2 separate regions of the Homo sapiens genome follow, and region 1 is linked to region 2. Evidence: fine-mapped expression QTL. A gene starts in region 2. The other region holds a variant in brackets. All regions are shown on one strand. Distances are between the middles of the regions.

Region 1 (4,384 bases), 220 kb before region 2:
ACGTGGTCATTATTAAAGTATAGATTGTAACTTATAGTTAGTAGACTAATAGTCTGGAAGTGGAGACAGACATGTAAATATGGATTTCAACACAGCGTGGTAAGTGCCATGATGGAGGTGTGCACAGGCCTCTGTGGGTCACAGAGAAGGTCAGGGTTCAAGTACAGCTGTCCAGAGCAGTGCAGACAGTGCACTCAGGAAAACACAAATGAGTCCAGTTTGGCTGGAACGGATCATTCTGTGAAGGAGAAGAAAAGAGTGGAAAGAAAGGTGAAGCTCTGCTCATTGAAGGACTCTGAAAAATGGACATTGATATGGTGCTTTAGACTCACTCATCAAAGTATAGTCTGTGGACCAGTAGATCTGGCATTACTGGAAGCTTGCTAGAAATGCAGATGCCACTCTGGGAAACACTGTGTAGTGCCCTACTCCTTCAAGTGTGGTCCTGCAACCAGCAGCAGCAGCAGCAGCTGGAGGCTTGTGAGAAAGCCAGCCCCACTCCAGACCTGCCAAATCAGAATCTGCACTGGGCAACAGGATGCCCAGATGATTTGCTTATACACCAAAGGTGAGAAGCACCGTTCCAGGGCATATTAGCCCTCTGCTGAGCCATAATGAGAGGAAGTAAGTGGGTGAGAAGTTAGCTGAGGTGGGAGGTCTCAGAAGGTGGTGATACACTACGGCATGAGGGAACAGTATGAGCAAAGACATCGAGGTATAAAACAGCAGCTCAGTTTTATTGTACCAGGTACTGTGCTACATGCTTTCTATGCACTCATCTTTTGATCTCCATAGTCACCCGGTGTTTTTATTCCAACAGATGGAGGGGCAGAAAGGTGGATAACTGCTGGGTGCAGTGACTCATGCCTGTAATCCCAGCACTTTGGGAAGCCAAGGCAGGTGGATCACTTGAGCTGAGGAGTTCAAGAACAGCCTGGGCAACATGGGGAAACCCCATCTCTCCAAAAAATACAAAAGTTACCCGGGTGTGGTGATGTGCACCTGTAGTTCCAGCTACTTAGGAGGCTGAGGTGGGAGGATCATTGAGCCTGGGAATTGGAGGCTGCAGTGAGCCATGATTGCACCACTGCACTCCAGCCTGGGTGACACAGTGAGACACTGAGAAAGAAAGAAAGAAAGAAAGAAAGAAAGAAGAAAGAAAGAAGGAAAGAAAGAAAGAAAGAAACAAAGAAAGAAAGAAAGAAAGAGAAAAAGAAAGAAAGAAAGAAAGAAGGAAAAGAAGGATGGGGGAGGGGGGAGGGATAGCATGGAGAGATATACCTAATGCTAGATGATGAGTTAGTGGGTGCAGCGCACCAGCATGGCACATGTATACGTATGTAACTAACCTGCACAATGTGCACATGTACCCTAAAACTTAAAGTATAATAATAAAAAAAAAAGAAAGAAAAGAAGGAAGGAAGGAAAGATGGAAAGGAACGAAAGATGGAAAGGAAGGAAAGATGGAAAGAAACGAAAGGAGAATGACCAGCCCAGTGTCACTGGACACGAGGTGGGGATGTAAACTCAGGATTCCTCAACATCCTTCAAATACCCCAAGCCTTCATGCCTTGTGTAGCAGATTCCCTCTACAAGGAATTGCCTTCTTTATCTGTTAAATCTCATTCATTTTTCCAGATCCAGCTCCAAAAGTCACCTCCTGTGTGACCTCCTTCCCAGTTTCTCCCGTCGTTAGTTACATACTCTGTGATGATCCTGAACATCTCTTTCATACCACAATGATAGAATTTGTCATGGTCTGGCTTATTTGGTGCTCCCTCTGCTCTGTTCAACCCCAAATAGAAGGTGATGTTTTTGGAAGTGGAGGAGGCATGTCTCATTCATCTCAGTCTCCCTAGTGCCTAGTTTGGTGCTTCATGCCTAGTAAACACGAATATGGGTTTATTAAAGGTGGACGTGGGTGCCAACTCTGGCTGCATTCCTTACCAGCTATATGACCTTGAGCACATTCCTTAACCTTTCGAGCTTCAGTATTTGCATCTATGAAATGGTGATCATGAAACCTACTCATAAGGTTGATATGAGATATGTAAAAACGCCATGCACACTGCAGGGCACAGAGGAAGTGTGTGATAAATATCTTTTAAGGGATAGAATAAATGAGTAAGCTGACCTGGTGTAAAAGCAGATGGTAATAATAAACTACTACCTATAGAGTCTGTACCAGGCACTATTTAGGGTAAATTATGTACATTACCTCCCCATCCTTCAAATGCCACCTATTGTTATCATTATCATCATTTTATTTTAATAAGTAATTAAACTGAGTCCTATATAGGTTAAGAAGTTTCCTTAAGGTCAAAGAGAGAACCAGACTGGGACTCTGATCCAAGTGGGTCCAAAGTCTAAGCTGCTAGAAAAAAAAAAAAAAAACCCAAAAGGCTTGACAAAAGAACCTCCCCATTGATATAGTGGCCCATCCAAAGATCACACCACTGTACCTTTAACCTCCAGAGATAGAACTGTTTTATCAAATTTTTACCAAAACCTCGAAAAAATCTGAACACTTTTTAAATTAGATTCCTCAATACTAGAAAAATACAGCTGTTAGCAGTCACATGAGACCTGGCTGTTCTTCATGAAATACAAGCTGTGTTAATGGGAGGTATGTTAAAGCTGTTTGTTGCTGTACAGCACTGTGTGTATAACTAAAACAGTCAGGAGCTAGCTTCCCACGTTCAATGAAATGTTTACAGACAGACAAGTTAATAGGCATAAAAGCTATATCCAAAGCATGAGTGATATTCTTTTGA[T/C]GTCAGCTCCATGGAATCCTTCCTGTTACAGTAGTAAGAATTTTTTTAAGGAGATTATATTATAGAATCAGAAAGTGCTTTTCTTTACTGTATGCCATTCCTGTTTCTCAGTTATAAGGGAAATGAATTTAGAAGTTTAAAAAAATCAAATTATTTATCTTAGTGTTCCCTGAAGTTTGCAAACTGCTGAGCAATGTGGTGCTTTGCCCTACATTCTCCTCATTGAGTCTATCTGGGTAAATTAATTACAAGACAATTCTTAGGAATTAAGTGTATTTTAAGTTCAGAGGCATCTGCTTAGAGACTTCTAATACCGCTAAATAGTCCCTTTGGAAATGCACTCGTTAGTATGAGTGGTATAATTTTCATTTCCGCTGGCACCATGGCGTATGACTTCTTCAGTTTCAGCTACCCTCTGATTGACCTGCCAAGGGCATAAACCACTCTGAAGATGTTCCAGCACCATTTGTGCTTCTCCAGTAGGTATAAGAAACTGGATTGATTTGCTCTACATCAAGGAATAATTTAAAAGATAATTTTTCCTGGTTTTAATGTGGTACATTCTCTGTGTAAACACACACACACACACACACACACACACACACACACACACTAGCCTGAACTTATAATAAGCTTATTGGGCAATAGAACAAAACAAATAAACATTTTCTTAGATAACAGATATTATATATGTCCTAAGGACATGAATTAGGAAAAAATCCATGGTGTGATTAATCCATTATGTAAAATGAAAATGCATTTTTAAGTCGAATGCCAATAAGATGTTGGCAGGGAATGGAAGGGGGGGTACTTGGAACACAGAGAACTGAAATTTACATTTGGGATTCTTTCCTCCCCTCTGAAATGAGAATGTGGTGAGTTTTATCACTTGATTCTTGTGAATCTGCTGTGTTCTGGTTTGGAAGAATTCTGAATCAGGGTGATTTTAGGACAGCTGCTGTTTCCCAGGCTCAAAACAAATAGAAGCAGAGTGTGGCCAGCTCTCCATAATTCCCTCAGTTATCCTCGGCATGGCTCTGCAGGGGCATCCCTAGAAAGACACAGGAGAGCCACTCACCATTCAGCCACCCTGTCGACAGATCTAATTTGGAAAGATCAGGTGTAGAGAAAAGAAAACAGTTCTTCGAATAAAACAGAGGCCAAAAAAAAAAAAATGCATAAAATAATCAGAATTTTTAGATATACACAGAGCTGGCATTCAGTTACCTCCAGAAGCACAGTTGACCCTGTGGAATGTCATCAGGTCAATCACTTTCTGATAATGATAGTAAATGGACATTTATACAGAGCTTTAGTGTTTATAAAACATGTCTATATATGGTGTATATCATTTGGACCCAATAACAATCCCATGATGAAGGTTATTATTAGAACTATTAAGAACACAGTCTTTGGAGTCCTGAAAATTAGGTTAAAATCCTAGCCCTCAATGTACTAACTGGACCACCTTGGGAACTTACTTACCTTCTCTGATGCTGTAATAGGAATAAATGAGATCACATGGGGAAAACATTTTCCCAGTGCTTGACACTTGGTATGCTCACAATAACTGGTAGTAGTTGTTGTTGTTATTATCTACTATATTGTGT
Region 2 (4,384 bases):
TTTAGATAAAGAAAAACTGTGGAGGTTGGCGGGCGTCTCAGGATAGTGTCACCACCCCCTACCCTGCTCCCAGCCTCAGATGAGTAGTGTTATATCCTGGGAAACTGTCTAATGGGGATGAAAGTCAATCTGTGTGTCTCAATGCCTGTAATGAAGCAAGTTTACAGATTTTTAAATTTTTATTTTTATTTTATTGAATTATTTTTGGTGTGTCTAGGCCAAGGAAAGAGGAGATCGTGGGTGGGGAAACAGACTGAGGGAATCAGAAGCACCACTGTCCATCCGGAATTAAATCCACATCCCAGCATCTTCTGCAAATATTTCACTAATTATTTCCTCTCGGAACTCCTCCCCTCGTGCTCCTTCCTCTGGTGAGGCCGGCGCTCCCCTCCCAGGCCGCAGCGGACAGACAGGGATTGGGTTCCGTGTGCCTGCCACACCAGGCAGGCTCTTGCGGCTCCCAACTAGGCGGCCTAAATGAGGGAGGAAAGAGGAGGCGCATCGCTGATTCACCGCGTCAAGAGCACTGACTTTCCTTGGAGGTGTGAGGTCCACGCACCCCAGCCACGCACTTGGGGGTCGGTTTGCGGTGCCTCCCCCTCCAGTCCCAGTGAAATCCCCACAGTTTTTCCTACTATCACTGACTTGCCTTGCACTCCGCGTGCATTGGCCACACATCCTCGCCTCCTCCACCCGCTCCGCCGCCGGTTTTCTTGGAAGTTAAATCTTGGAGGATTTGTCCACACCTTAAGAGAAGAAAATCCACGTTAGCTGGCAGCAACGGAGATCCCAGCATGCTGGCATGCCCAAGTCTGCCCAGGTTCCCCCAAGGCCATGCCCGCCGCCCGGGAAGTCACTGCCCGCACCCCTCACGTTTCTTCAGCCGCCCCTGGGCGCTGCGTCTAACCTGAAGACACCAGGCCTCTTCCCGGATCCACTCGACTTACCCAGGCCGCTGCCAATCCCAGCTCCTTCCCCAGCGCCTCATTTCCGATTTTTTCATATGCTAAGTCGTTTAACAACTCCAAGTAGCCAGTTATGGCTTCTTTATTTATAGGTTCCCTGCTATTTTACGTCGTTTTTATTTCTCTCGGCAACTATTCTAGTAGATTAATCAATAGCCATTTTCTGACCTTCGGGAACCCCAGCTGATGCTTTTTGTGGCCGCACGAAAAAATACATACAGGAAAACACGCCCGCATCAAGCCGGGAAAGAGCAGGTAGGACCTGAGTGGTTTGGTTGGGGGAGGGGGAAAAAGACATCTCAGCAGGTGTCTTCCCCGGAATGAGCACTGAGGCCAGAGGGGAATCTGAAATCTAATTAGCAGGAGGGAGCCGGGTGCGCTGCTCTTACTCTTTAAAGCTAAAAACAATGAAACAAAAAGCAAAACAGAGACTAAGTTTTGCTTTTTAAAACACGATATGGGAACCTCGTTCTAGGTCGCCCAGTCCCTGTCTAAGGAGTGTGACAAAGTGGGGGGGAGAAGGGCGGAAGGGAGAGGGGGCGGGGAAGGCAGGGCAGCGACAGTCGCACAGTCCCGCGGACGCTCCCAGGCCCACGCCCTGACTCGCTCACACCCACCCACACTCACACCCACCCGCTCCCTGGGCCCCAGGGCCCGGATCCAGCCTGGGTGGGGGGGTCTCCGGGCGGGCCGCAGCGCCCTCCGTGCCCCGGGGATGCTGGCGCACAGTGCGGAGCGGAGTTGCGCGTCTCTCGTCCCTTTGTTGACAATTCCCTGAACCAACTTGAGTTTGGCCGGCTCGGCCGCGGCCCTGACGTCACGCACGGTCACGTGGCCCCGCCTCCCGCTGGATCTTTAAGTAGAAAGTAATCTATCAGGCCAGTCCTTAAAACGGGACTTTCGACTACCGGGGCTTCGGCGTCCCTGACACCCAGCCCCCTGCCCCCCCGCTACTGTCCCTGCCCGCGCCCTCCCGAGCTGCTCGGCGCCCGGCGTCCCGCGCCCGCCTGGACCGCTCCTGCGCCCCACGCCAGGGCCAGAGGCCGAGGAAGGCGGGCTAAGTGAGGGGGCGCGGCGTGGAGAACCGCCGGGGCCGGGAGCGGTAGCGAGCGCCTAGTACCGAGCGCCAGGGACGGCAGGAGTTCGCGGAGCGCGGCCGCTGGGGGCGGACGGCAGAGCCCGCGCCACGCGATGCGGGGCCGCCGAGTGTGAGCTGAGCCCAGCGGGCCCCAAGCCACCTGCGGCCCCCTCCCCTCTCCCTGCCCCCCATCTTTCGGGGGCACTCAAACCCTCTTCCCCTGAGCTCCGTGGCAGCCCCCGAACACCCTCATCGCCCGCTGCCCCCTCCCCGCCGCCGCTACCAACCCCGAGGAGGGATGACCCTCTCCGGCGGCGGCAGCGCCAGCGACATGTCCGGCCAGACGGTGCTGACGGCCGAGGACGTGGACATCGATGTGGTGGGCGAGGGCGACGACGGGCTGGAAGAGAAGGACAGCGACGCAGGTTGCGATAGCCCCGCGGGGCCGCCGGAGCTGCGCCTGGACGAGGCGGACGAGGTGCCCCCGGCGGCACCCCATCACGGACAGCCTCAGCCGCCCCACCAGCAGCCCCTGACATTGCCCAAGGAGGCGGCCGGAGCCGGGGCCGGACCGGGGGGCGACGTGGGCGCGCCGGAGGCGGACGGCTGCAAGGGCGGTGTTGGCGGCGAGGAGGGCGGCGCGAGCGGCGGCGGGCCTGGCGCGGGCAGCGGTTCGGCGGGAGGCCTGGCCCCGAGCAAGCCCAAGAACAGCCTAGTGAAGCCGCCTTACTCGTACATCGCGCTCATCACCATGGCCATCCTGCAGAGCCCGCAGAAGAAGCTGACCCTGAGCGGCATCTGCGAGTTCATCAGCAACCGCTTCCCCTACTACAGGGAGAAGTTCCCCGCCTGGCAGAACAGCATCCGCCACAACCTCTCACTCAACGACTGCTTCGTCAAGATCCCCCGCGAGCCGGGCAACCCGGGCAAGGGCAACTACTGGACCCTGGACCCGCAGTCCGAGGACATGTTCGACAACGGCAGCTTCCTGCGGCGCCGGAAACGCTTCAAGCGCCACCAGCAGGAGCACCTGCGCGAGCAGACGGCGCTCATGATGCAGAGCTTCGGCGCTTACAGCCTGGCGGCGGCGGCCGGCGCCGCGGGACCCTACGGCCGCCCCTACGGCCTGCACCCTGCGGCGGCGGCCGGTGCCTATTCGCACCCGGCAGCGGCGGCGGCCGCGGCTGCTGCGGCGGCGCTCCAGTACCCGTACGCGCTGCCGCCGGTGGCACCGGTGCTGCCTCCCGCTGTGCCGCTGCTGCCCTCGGGCGAGCTGGGCCGCAAAGCGGCCGCCTTCGGCTCACAGCTCGGCCCGGGCCTGCAGCTGCAGCTCAATAGCCTGGGCGCCGCCGCGGCCGCTGCGGGCACAGCGGGCGCCGCGGGCACCACCGCGTCGCTCATCAAGTCCGAGCCAAGCGCGCGGCCGTCGTTCAGCATCGAGAACATCATAGGTGGGGGCCCCGCGGCTCCTGGGGGCTCGGCGGTGGGCGCTGGGGTCGCCGGCGGCACTGGGGGTTCAGGGGGCGGCAGCACGGCGCAGTCGTTTCTGCGGCCACCCGGGACCGTGCAGTCGGCAGCGCTCATGGCCACCCACCAACCGCTGTCGCTGAGCCGGACGACTGCCACCATCGCGCCCATTCTTAGCGTGCCACTCTCCGGACAGTTTCTGCAGCCCGCAGCCTCGGCCGCCGCCGCTGCTGCGGCCGCCGCTCAAGCCAAATGGCCGGCGCAATAGGGACGCGCCAATGGCCGGGACCCAGGGTCCGGCGGCGGCCTCGAGCAACAAATGCACCTCCAGGCTGCGCGCCCTGTCCCAAGCCCGGTCCCGGTCCCGCTGCCCAATCCTGGACTCTGCCTCTCCCCAATTTCCTTTCCCCTGAGCCCCCAACGCCTACCTTCCGCGGCCTCCATCCCCTCGCGCACACCTAAGCTGGTCGAGCAAACTCACCGCGCGCCCGCCGGGGATAGCTTTCCATACAGGTAAAACCGAAAACCGAATTTTCCAAAAATGCACCCCGACGGCGCCTGCTCTTAGTACCGTGGGGATGGGAGGGAAATTCTTTGTATATATTTGTAAAAAAATTATTGACTTTCCTTTTGGGGTTTTTATTTTTTTAAGAAAAAACAAATTCCGTAGATTTAGAGCTCTGAACTTTCATTTTTTTTGAAGGTTCACTCTCCGAAGTTTTATCTGAGAAAAGAATGTATAGAGACGTTGGGAGATTTTAAATATAAAAAATTTTCAAAAAGGCAAAAAGTGTCATTCTATTATAAAAGTCTGTTTATATATGAATGAATATATATGGTATTCTAAATGTTATTCCATCGTGTTGTACACAAC

Direction of the effects. Alleles are on the strand shown, and positions count from the first base shown. SD is a standard deviation of normalised expression in the study named.
For the expression in skeletal muscle of the gene that starts at base 1,850 in region 2, allele C in region 1 goes with a higher level than allele T (moderate effect, 0.70 SD a copy in GTEx).

What was found. PIP is the estimated chance that this variant, and not a neighbour inherited with it, causes the effect.
Region 1: its variant is the best candidate, but not a certain one, in a credible set for the expression of FOXD3 in skeletal muscle (GTEx, PIP 0.87).

Annotation. Positions count from the first base shown.
Region 1 is chr1:63,096,708-63,101,091 of GRCh38, forward strand. No RefSeq gene overlaps it. Among named protein-coding and RNA genes, the nearest start is that of LINC01739, 86 kb to the left of the region's middle. The variant T/C (reference allele first, on the strand shown) is at 2,775.
Region 2 is chr1:63,320,718-63,325,101 of GRCh38, forward strand. FOXD3 (forkhead box D3) reads left to right here and starts at 1,850. Exons shown (of 1, transcript NM_012183.3): 1 at 1,850-4,384. The coding sequence starts at 2,342. The coding sequence ends at 3,778. FOXD3-AS1 (FOXD3 antisense RNA 1) reads right to left here and starts at 3,724. Exons shown (of 3, transcript NR_121637.1): 1 at 3,638-3,724; 2 at 650-746; 3 at 167-473. RefSeq lists silencers at 1,458-1,767, 1,888-1,967 and an enhancer at 2,291-2,980.